Linked DNA regions of Homo sapiens. The protein of the gene in region 1 purifies or fractionates together with the protein of each later gene. This does not show direct contact. Each region holds a gene or a part of one and is shown on either strand. Other genes may lie near its edges.

Region 1 (4,293 bases):
AATAAATTCAGTTAGAAAACAGGAAAAAGCTTGGACACCTCATTTAGGAAGATCTGGATGGAAAATAAACATAAGAAAAGTTTCTCAACATTTTTAGTTAGTAGAGAAATAAATGCAAATTAAAATCACAAGGAGATACCACTTTAAACATTTATACATGAATGTTTAAACTTAAAAACACAAACCATATCAAATGATGGTGAGGATATAGAGCAACTAGAACTCTGAAACCCGCTGGTGGGAATATAAAATAGTACAACTGTGTAAAACTATGCGGCAATTTTTTAAGCACATATACAATTCTATGACTTGGCCATTCCACTCCTAGGTACTAACCCATGAGATATGAAAACATATGTCCATACAAAGACTTGCACACAATAGCAGCTTTATTTGAAACAATTCAAAACTGGAAGCAGTCCAAACACCTATTAAAAGGTAGATAAACAAATTGTGTTATATTCATGCAGTGGAATAGTAACAGCAATAAAACCCAACAAACTCTTGACACATAGGACGAAATTTATCAATCAAAATAATTATGCTATTGGAAAGAAGCTAGATTAAATGTTCATACTGTATGATTCTATTATCGTAAAATTCTAGAAAATGCAAACTAATATATGGTGACAGAAAGCAGAACGGGAGCTGGGAGGAGTCAGGTATTACAACCGGGCATGAGGAAACTTTGAGGTGATGGAAAAGTTTATCTTAATTGTGGAGGTGATTTCAACAGTGTATACATATGTTCACCCTTAACAAATTATGCACTTTTGATATCTGCAGTTTATTGTACTTTAACCTTCAAGCTGTTAAAAATTAACCGGAGATAATTTTCAATTGTTGTGTAAGGTTTGCCACAAAGTGTAATATCTGCAAAGAAGCAGACAACTAATTTTTTCTTCTTAAGATTGTGGAAAAAGTTGTAATACTACAGAGAGCTGTGGAATCTAAGGATTAGTTGACCAACGCTTGTAAAGCTACCAATCTGAAAAACACATTTTCAGTTACCAAAGTTATTTTCTCTCTTCCATCGTGTAAATAGAATGTCGGGGTTCTTCTAATTTGGGTGTTTCTAAAATTTAAATCCACGTGAACAGATTAGGAAAGACCACGAAATCCTACGTCACCTCTAAAGTCACAGCTTGAAGCCTTGCGAAAGGAACTGGCCCTAGACCCCACCCCGGCCTATAAATCACCAGGGCGCAGCCTCAGTGCCTGGGGGTCGGCAGCAGCCAGCGTCAGGCGGCTCCCGCACGCTTCTTCCTAGGCGGCAGGCCGTGGCTGCCACGTGACTCCCGCTAACACCGGATGATGGCGCAGCGCTGTGCACGCAGGCGCAGTGTGGGGCCCTTGCGGTCGAAGCTCACGCGGTAAGCCGCTGCACGTGTGCTACGGCGGGCGGAGGGCCGAAAGTCCAGTATGTGGGTCCAGGGTCACTCTTCTAGAGCTTCCGCAACGGAAAGTGTGAGGTCAGTAGTAGTTTTTGTGGTACGTGCAGTGGTGGCCGCTTCAAGGACTATTTTCGTCGCTGCTTGCGTTTTAAGTCTCCAATCCTGGGACGAGGCCCATTTCAGGGTTTTCTGTCACCTTCTAGCCGCCCGCCACCCCAGAGGGGTGCCAGATGCCCCAGTTTTTGAGTGCATGCAGGCAGGCGAAAGTGGCTCGAAAAGACCTCCGGCCTGAATGATCTCCATGAAGACGCGGTCACGCAGCCTCCACACTCTCTTCCCCTTCTCGAAAATTCTGTGCCATTTAAGTTTCAAAATCCCTTATAAAATAAGTGTCAGAGAGCTACGTGTACCCGTTTCTTCCAAATTTTCATCACGAAGTGGAGATTTGGACGTACTATTTTGTGATCTCTGTTTGCAGAAAGTGGGTACGGCATCAGTGCCTTCATAATCAGGGCAAGTCATTTTAAAATAAGATTTAAAAACTACTCTAGAAGTAGCTTCTTGGAGTGTGTGGAGAGATTTCCAAAGTAATTTTAACTTTTACTGAATTTAAGCCTTAATGCTTTCCGTGGGAATATATAGTCTCCCTAAAAGTTATTACAGCTTTTCAGTCAGTTGAATTTAAAAACTGCTTTTTGACCAGTAGAAAAGAACCCTTGCTTTGGAGACATTTTCATGCCACTTACGAAAAATTTTTTTAAAAAATTAAGTTGTGACAAAGTAATCCATTTTTAAAATTTTATTTTTCTGTGATGAGGAGTTAATGTTTTCCTTTTCATAATGAGAGAGCATTTGAAACTTTAGTATAGTGGTGTTCCTAGACAACTTTTAAAGCTCTTAAAAAATTGCGGTGGCTTAGGCCTGTAATCCCGGCACTTTGAGAGGCCGAGGTGGGCAAATCACAAGGTCAGGAGTTCAAGACCAGCCTGGCCAACATGGTGAAACCCCGTCTCTACTAAAAATACAAAAATTAGCTGGACGTGGTGTCACGCGCCGGTAATCTCAGCTACTTGGGAGGGTGAGGCAGGAGAATTGCTTGAACCCGGGGGGTGGAGGTTGCAGTGAGCTAAGATCTCCAGCCTGAGCGACAGAGCAAGACTTCGTTTGGGGGGAAAAAAAAAAAAACCCATAAAAAATCTGTGTTTTAATTTTCCTTCAACACTTATGAATGGAAAGTGCAGTATTTTAGTATATTACAGATAAAATTACATAGTGTACATTTATTTTGGAATATTTTTGCATTTGATAAAGTATAATATTATGTAATTAAAATTATTTTTGAAGTAATAGGCAAAATTTTAGGTATTTTTGCAGTCTTTAATCCCACGGAATCTTCAAAAATAGTAACCACCGTGCCTTTTACATAAAATAGACTACCAGTTTAAAGCATTTGTTCTATTACTTGTAATGTTTCTCTTTGTTTACATTGTGGAAGTCCTTTTTATGGGAGGATATTTTCTAAAAAAAGAATATGTACATTGTTTCAAAGTATTGATTTATGTAAGTGATCAAAATGTATATGAGTTCAGTATAAGTTTGTAAAAGTTTGGCTAGAGATAATTTTAAGGATAGAGATTATATATGATAAAATTGCATCTACTACAAAATACTCAAAAGAATTAGTTAGTGAAGGAAATATTGAGCTCATTTTTAATATAGAGTTTGAATTTTGATAACTGCATTTAGGACAAAACATTTGTAAGAATTGAACATGATGTAGTTTAGTCTTCATTCATTATTAATGGTGGATTATTGTAATCTAATTTAAGGTATTGTTCTAGTTTTTCAGGAATTGTTCAAATGGATGAAGATACACATTACGATAAAGGTACTGACACTAAAAATTATTTTGGGGTGTAAGAGCTAGATGATACTGATTAATTTCTAATTTTCCTTGTATTGTGATTTGATTTTAGTGGAAGATGTGGTTGGAAGTCACATAGAAGATGCAGTAACATTTTGGGCCCAGGTAAATAGCAAACTGGTTGATATCCCCCCTCACCTCCCCCAATCCAGTTCCTCCCCAACAAAAACAAAAATAAAACCCAGGAATAAATACATTTGTCATTCTCATTGCCTAATATTTATTGAATTATTTATCACCAGGCATTATTAGGAGACAAATGTTGACAGCTGTGATGTTACTTGACTCATTATGAGTCAAGTGTTATGCCCATAATACACCAAGTTTGAAAAAAGAAAATTGGCAAGATTGTGATTTCAGAATTCCACTCAATTCTAGGCTGCTTTTGCTGGATTCTGAGAGCCTGTTGTATTTGTGAAGTTATAGCCCCATCTAGGGGTCTTTTATAAGATTGTTTCTTGAAGGAGGATAAGTTAAAAATCTCGGTCGTTTTTTCTAATGGCTTAAATTTGAGATGTGGTATTTTTCTCATTATAGAATTGGAAGCATGAATGAAACATTTCTGATTTTCTGTTGGGAGGGTGTCAGTTAGGTAAGGTTACTCAGTTTTAAATACAAAGCAAGCACTGAAGGGCTGTGTTCCACAATTTAAGAAGGTAAATTCCTCTGATGCACAGAACGACCTGCTAATTTTTGGTTTTGTAAACTATACATGATACGGAAGGGAAAGAAATTACGTTTCTCTATACTCCCTACAGCATGGGAACTCCTTTTGGTGGGGGGTGAGGTGAACTCGTAATGTGGGAAATAAGGAGAATATATGAGAAGAAAGTTCTAGAAGAATATGATTAACCCAGAGTTCTTAAATATATAGTCATGCATCACTTAATGACTGGGATACATACAGAGAAATGCATCATTAGGCAACTGCGTCGCTGTATGAACATCATAGAATGTACTTAGAGAAACCTGGAT
Region 2 (3,821 bases), on another chromosome or scaffold:
ACGAAGAACTTTGTAGTGGTTATCTATATTTGTAGTTTTTAGGGTGTGAAACCTTATCTACTAGCAAAATTGGTAAATCACTGTAGACTCTTCTATTAGCATCCCTCTCTCTTTTGATGATTTCATTTGTAGCTCCAACAAATGAATCTAAAAAGAAGAATCCAGGCTGGGCACGGTGGCTCATGCCTGTAATCCCAGAACTTGGGGAGGCCAAGGCGGGCGGATCATGAGGCCAGGAGCAAGACCAGCCTGGCTAACATAGGGAGACTCTATCTTTACTAAAAATACAGACATTAGCTGGTGTGGTGACATGTGCCTGTGGTCCCAGCTACTTGGGAGGCTGAGGCGGGAGAATTGCTTGAATCCAGGAAGCAGAGATTGCAGTGAGCCGAGACCACGCCATTGCACTCCAGCCTGGGTGACAGAGTGACACTCTGTCTTAAAAAAACAAAAAAAAAGAATCCAGTATACTTTGCAATGCAGAATATTGGGTTAGATGAGCCTTTAGAGACTAATCCAGTTTAACCCCTCCTTTTTACACCTTAGTAAAGTGAGTCCTAGTGTTTTCAAGACTTGCATGTGGCAGAGTTATTTTTTGAGCTCAGATCTTCTAATTCTTAATTGATAATAAACTGCTTTGGTGAATTAACACCCACAGAAAATAGTGGAATGGTGTGTGGTTTTCAAATACCTAAGAATTGGTAATAGCCATGCTTTAGCATTTTTAGCATGGTAAGTAAATCTATTCTACCAGTGATGGTTATACTTTATTACTTTGCTATTTGGGTTAGGTAGACCTGTTAGAAAAGTCCAGTGTTCCTAATCAGATATGCATTTTTTAAAAACAGGCATAAACTCTTCACCACAATTTTAATTACAGTCATCCCTCAGTATACACGGAGGATTGGTTCCAGGACCCTTGTATATACCCAACCCTGCGCAATACTGAAGTCCCACATCTGTGTAAACGAAAAGTTGGCCCACTGTGTACATGGATTTTCCATTCCAAGATGTTTTTTTGGTTCAAAACAATTTGCTTATAAGTAGACCCAGGTAATTCAAAGCCATGTTGTTGAAGGGCCAACTGTTTAAGCCAATCGTAAAATACTGTGTCTGAGGAAACAGGCCTCATTGCTCAGCAGTGAGTTTTTATTAGACTAGGTATGTATATCATTATTAATATTTTACTGTAAATAGCTTTGTAATTCACACAAAGTATACGGGCCCAGCAGGCCTCATTGCTCAGCAGTGAGTTTTTATTAGACTAGGTATGTATATCATTATTAATATTTTACTGTAAATAGCTTTGTAATTCACACAAAGTATACGGGCCCAGAATAATTTTTGTTGATTTATTTTTACTATAAGGAGATAAGAGAAAAAATAGCTCACTTGGCAGCACAGAAAATGAATACCATATTGGCAATATTAAAGCAGAAAATAATTCATTTCTGATCAGTAGTGCTTTCAGTTTTCATCAGAATTATTATTATTATTATTATTTTGCCACTGTGAAAAAGCAGTTAAGCATGTAAAACTTCCCTTTAGAGAGGGTTCTTTTTGGATAGATCAATTTGGAACTAGCTTCTTTTTTTTTTTTTTAAATGATACTTCAGTAAACACAGCATTTACAACAAGAATTGTGGACTATGGTGGACCATTAATAGGGATTTAAAGATTTACTTAGAAATTGTAGACTTCTAATATCTTTTATTTCCCTTCTCACCACAGTTTATTTTCTTTTTTCTTTTTCTTTTTTTTTTTTTCTTTTTTTTCTTTTTTTGAGATGGAGTTTCACTCTTGTTGCCCAGGTTGGAGTGCAATGGTGCGATCTCGGCTCACCCCAACCTCCGCCTCCCGGGTTCAAGCAATTCTCCTGCCTCAGCCTCCCAAGTGGCTGGGATTACAGGTGCCCACCACCATGCCCAGTTAATTTTGCATTTTTAGTAGAGACGGGGTTTCTCCATGTTGGTCAGGCTGGTCTCAAACTCCTGACTTCAGGTGATCTGCCTGCCTCGGCCTCCCAAAGTGCTGGGATTACAGGTGTGAGCCACCGCACCCAGCCTACAGCTTATTTTCTACCTATGTTTAACAGGAAGCTTGATAACACAAGCAAATGTGATGCCATTCTGGGACTGAAATGTCGTCTTATGAGTGTATTCAGATGAGGTATACCAGTGTTTAAAGATTAGTTGGAAGTTATTCTCCTAGTGTGCATATTTAATTTCTACTTACTCCATTTCCCTTTAATGAGAAAAGAATCATATTGTCTGAATTTTCCTGTATAAAGTTTAAAAAAGTTAATTATTAGGACTTGTTTTTAAAGGAGTAAGCAATGGAAGGATCAAACATTTATTAAATATATTCAGCAAATATTTAGAATTAAATGTATTCAGCAAGGAAGAGAATGGGATTCATACTGCTTGGAGTTTATAAAAGCGGAGTTTTTTTATTTTTTGAGACGGAATACTCTGTCACCCAGGCTGCAGTGCAGTGGCACAATCTCGGCTCACTGCAGCCTCTGCCTCCCAGGATCCTTTCCGGGTTCAAGCAATTCTTGTCCCTCAGCCTCGTAAGTAGGTGGGATTACAAGCTTGAGCCACCACAGCCAACTAATTTTTGTGTTTTTAGTAGAAATGAGTTTTCACCATGTTGGCCAGGCTGGTCTCGAACTCCTACCCTCAGGAGATCTGCCTGCCTCAGCTTCCCAAAGTGCTGGGATTACAGGTGTGAGCCACCACGCCCGCCCTAAAAGTGGATTCTTTTTTTTTTTTTTTTTTTTGGAGACAGTCTTGCTCTGTTGCCCAGGCTGGAGTGCAGTAGTGATCTTGGCTCACTGCAGCCTCTGCCTCCCGGGTTCAAGCGATTTTCCTGTCTCAACCTTCCAAGTATCTGGGATTACAGGCACGTGCCACTACACCCAGCTAATTTTTGTACTAAGACGAGGTTTCACCATATTGGCCAGTCTAGTCTCAAACTCCTGACCTCAGGTGATATGCCCGCCTCTGACTCCCAAAGTGCTGGGATTACAGGCATGAGCTACGGAGCCCGGCCTAGAAGTGGAGTCTTAGAAGGAGTGACCATGATATGTTTCTACTGAGTAGAAGGGGGAAGGGAGGACATAACCTTTGCATGATATAGTGAAATGCAGAGCTGGAAAGAACTATTAAGATTTGAGTGAAACTTTTGCCCCCTGTGTTGAATGAGTTAACTTTCAGTCTGTAAAATAAACAGGAAGAACTGGGAAGTACACTGTATCAATTGCTAACACTGAATAACCTGCGCTGCCTGTTTTTTCAGCTTCTGCTCCCAGACCACAGACCAGTGGTGGAAGAAGTTACAGATCCCTGTAAGCCACTTTGCTCCTGGCCTTTGTACAACTATCTTTCATCATTTCTTTTATTCATCATTAGACTCTTTGGTGAACTCCCCACAAAGACTCCATTTCCTATATCTCTTTCTCATAAGACGCTGTCACCTACTTTATGGAGATGACTGAGAGAGTAGGGTAAGAATTCCCTCATAGTCTACCTTTACTTTGTAGCTGAAGCCTCAACTCCTTAGAAGTCACAGCGTTAACTGCTCAATCTATCTTTCCTTCCATCCTTCCTTTACCTAGGACTTGTTCTCATGTAATAGTATATATAGCATCTTCAGTTTCCCCCATATGCACAGGTCTTTCTTTTGGCTTTTTAAATATCTACATTTCTTTTTTCTTTTTATTTTTTGAGACAGAGTCTTGTTCTGTCGCCCAGGCTGGAGTGCAGTGGTGCGATCTTGGCTCACTGCAGCCTCCGCCTCCCGGGTTCAAGCAATTGTTG

Evidence for each region.
Region 2: the proteins of STK31 (region 1) and FYTTD1 purify together in Homo sapiens (affinity purification with mass spectrometry; one large-scale study listed by BioGRID and IntAct). This does not show direct contact.

The regions. Positions count from the first base shown.
Region 1 is NC_000007.14:23,708,864-23,713,156, forward strand, and holds the start of STK31 (serine/threonine-protein kinase 31), read left to right. Parts: upstream 1-1,373; 5' UTR 1,374-1,422; coding exon 1,423-1,472; exon of another isoform or gene 1,473-1,907; intron 1,908-3,235; coding exon 3,236-3,282; intron 3,283-3,370; coding exon 3,371-3,423; intron 3,424-4,293.
Region 2 is NC_000003.12:197,784,350-197,788,170, forward strand, and holds the end of FYTTD1 (UAP56-interacting factor), read left to right. Parts: 3' UTR 1-3,247; downstream 3,248-3,821. UniProt on the Homo sapiens protein: Required for mRNA export from the nucleus to the cytoplasm. Acts as an adapter that uses the DDX39B/UAP56-NFX1 pathway to ensure efficient mRNA export and delivering to the nuclear pore.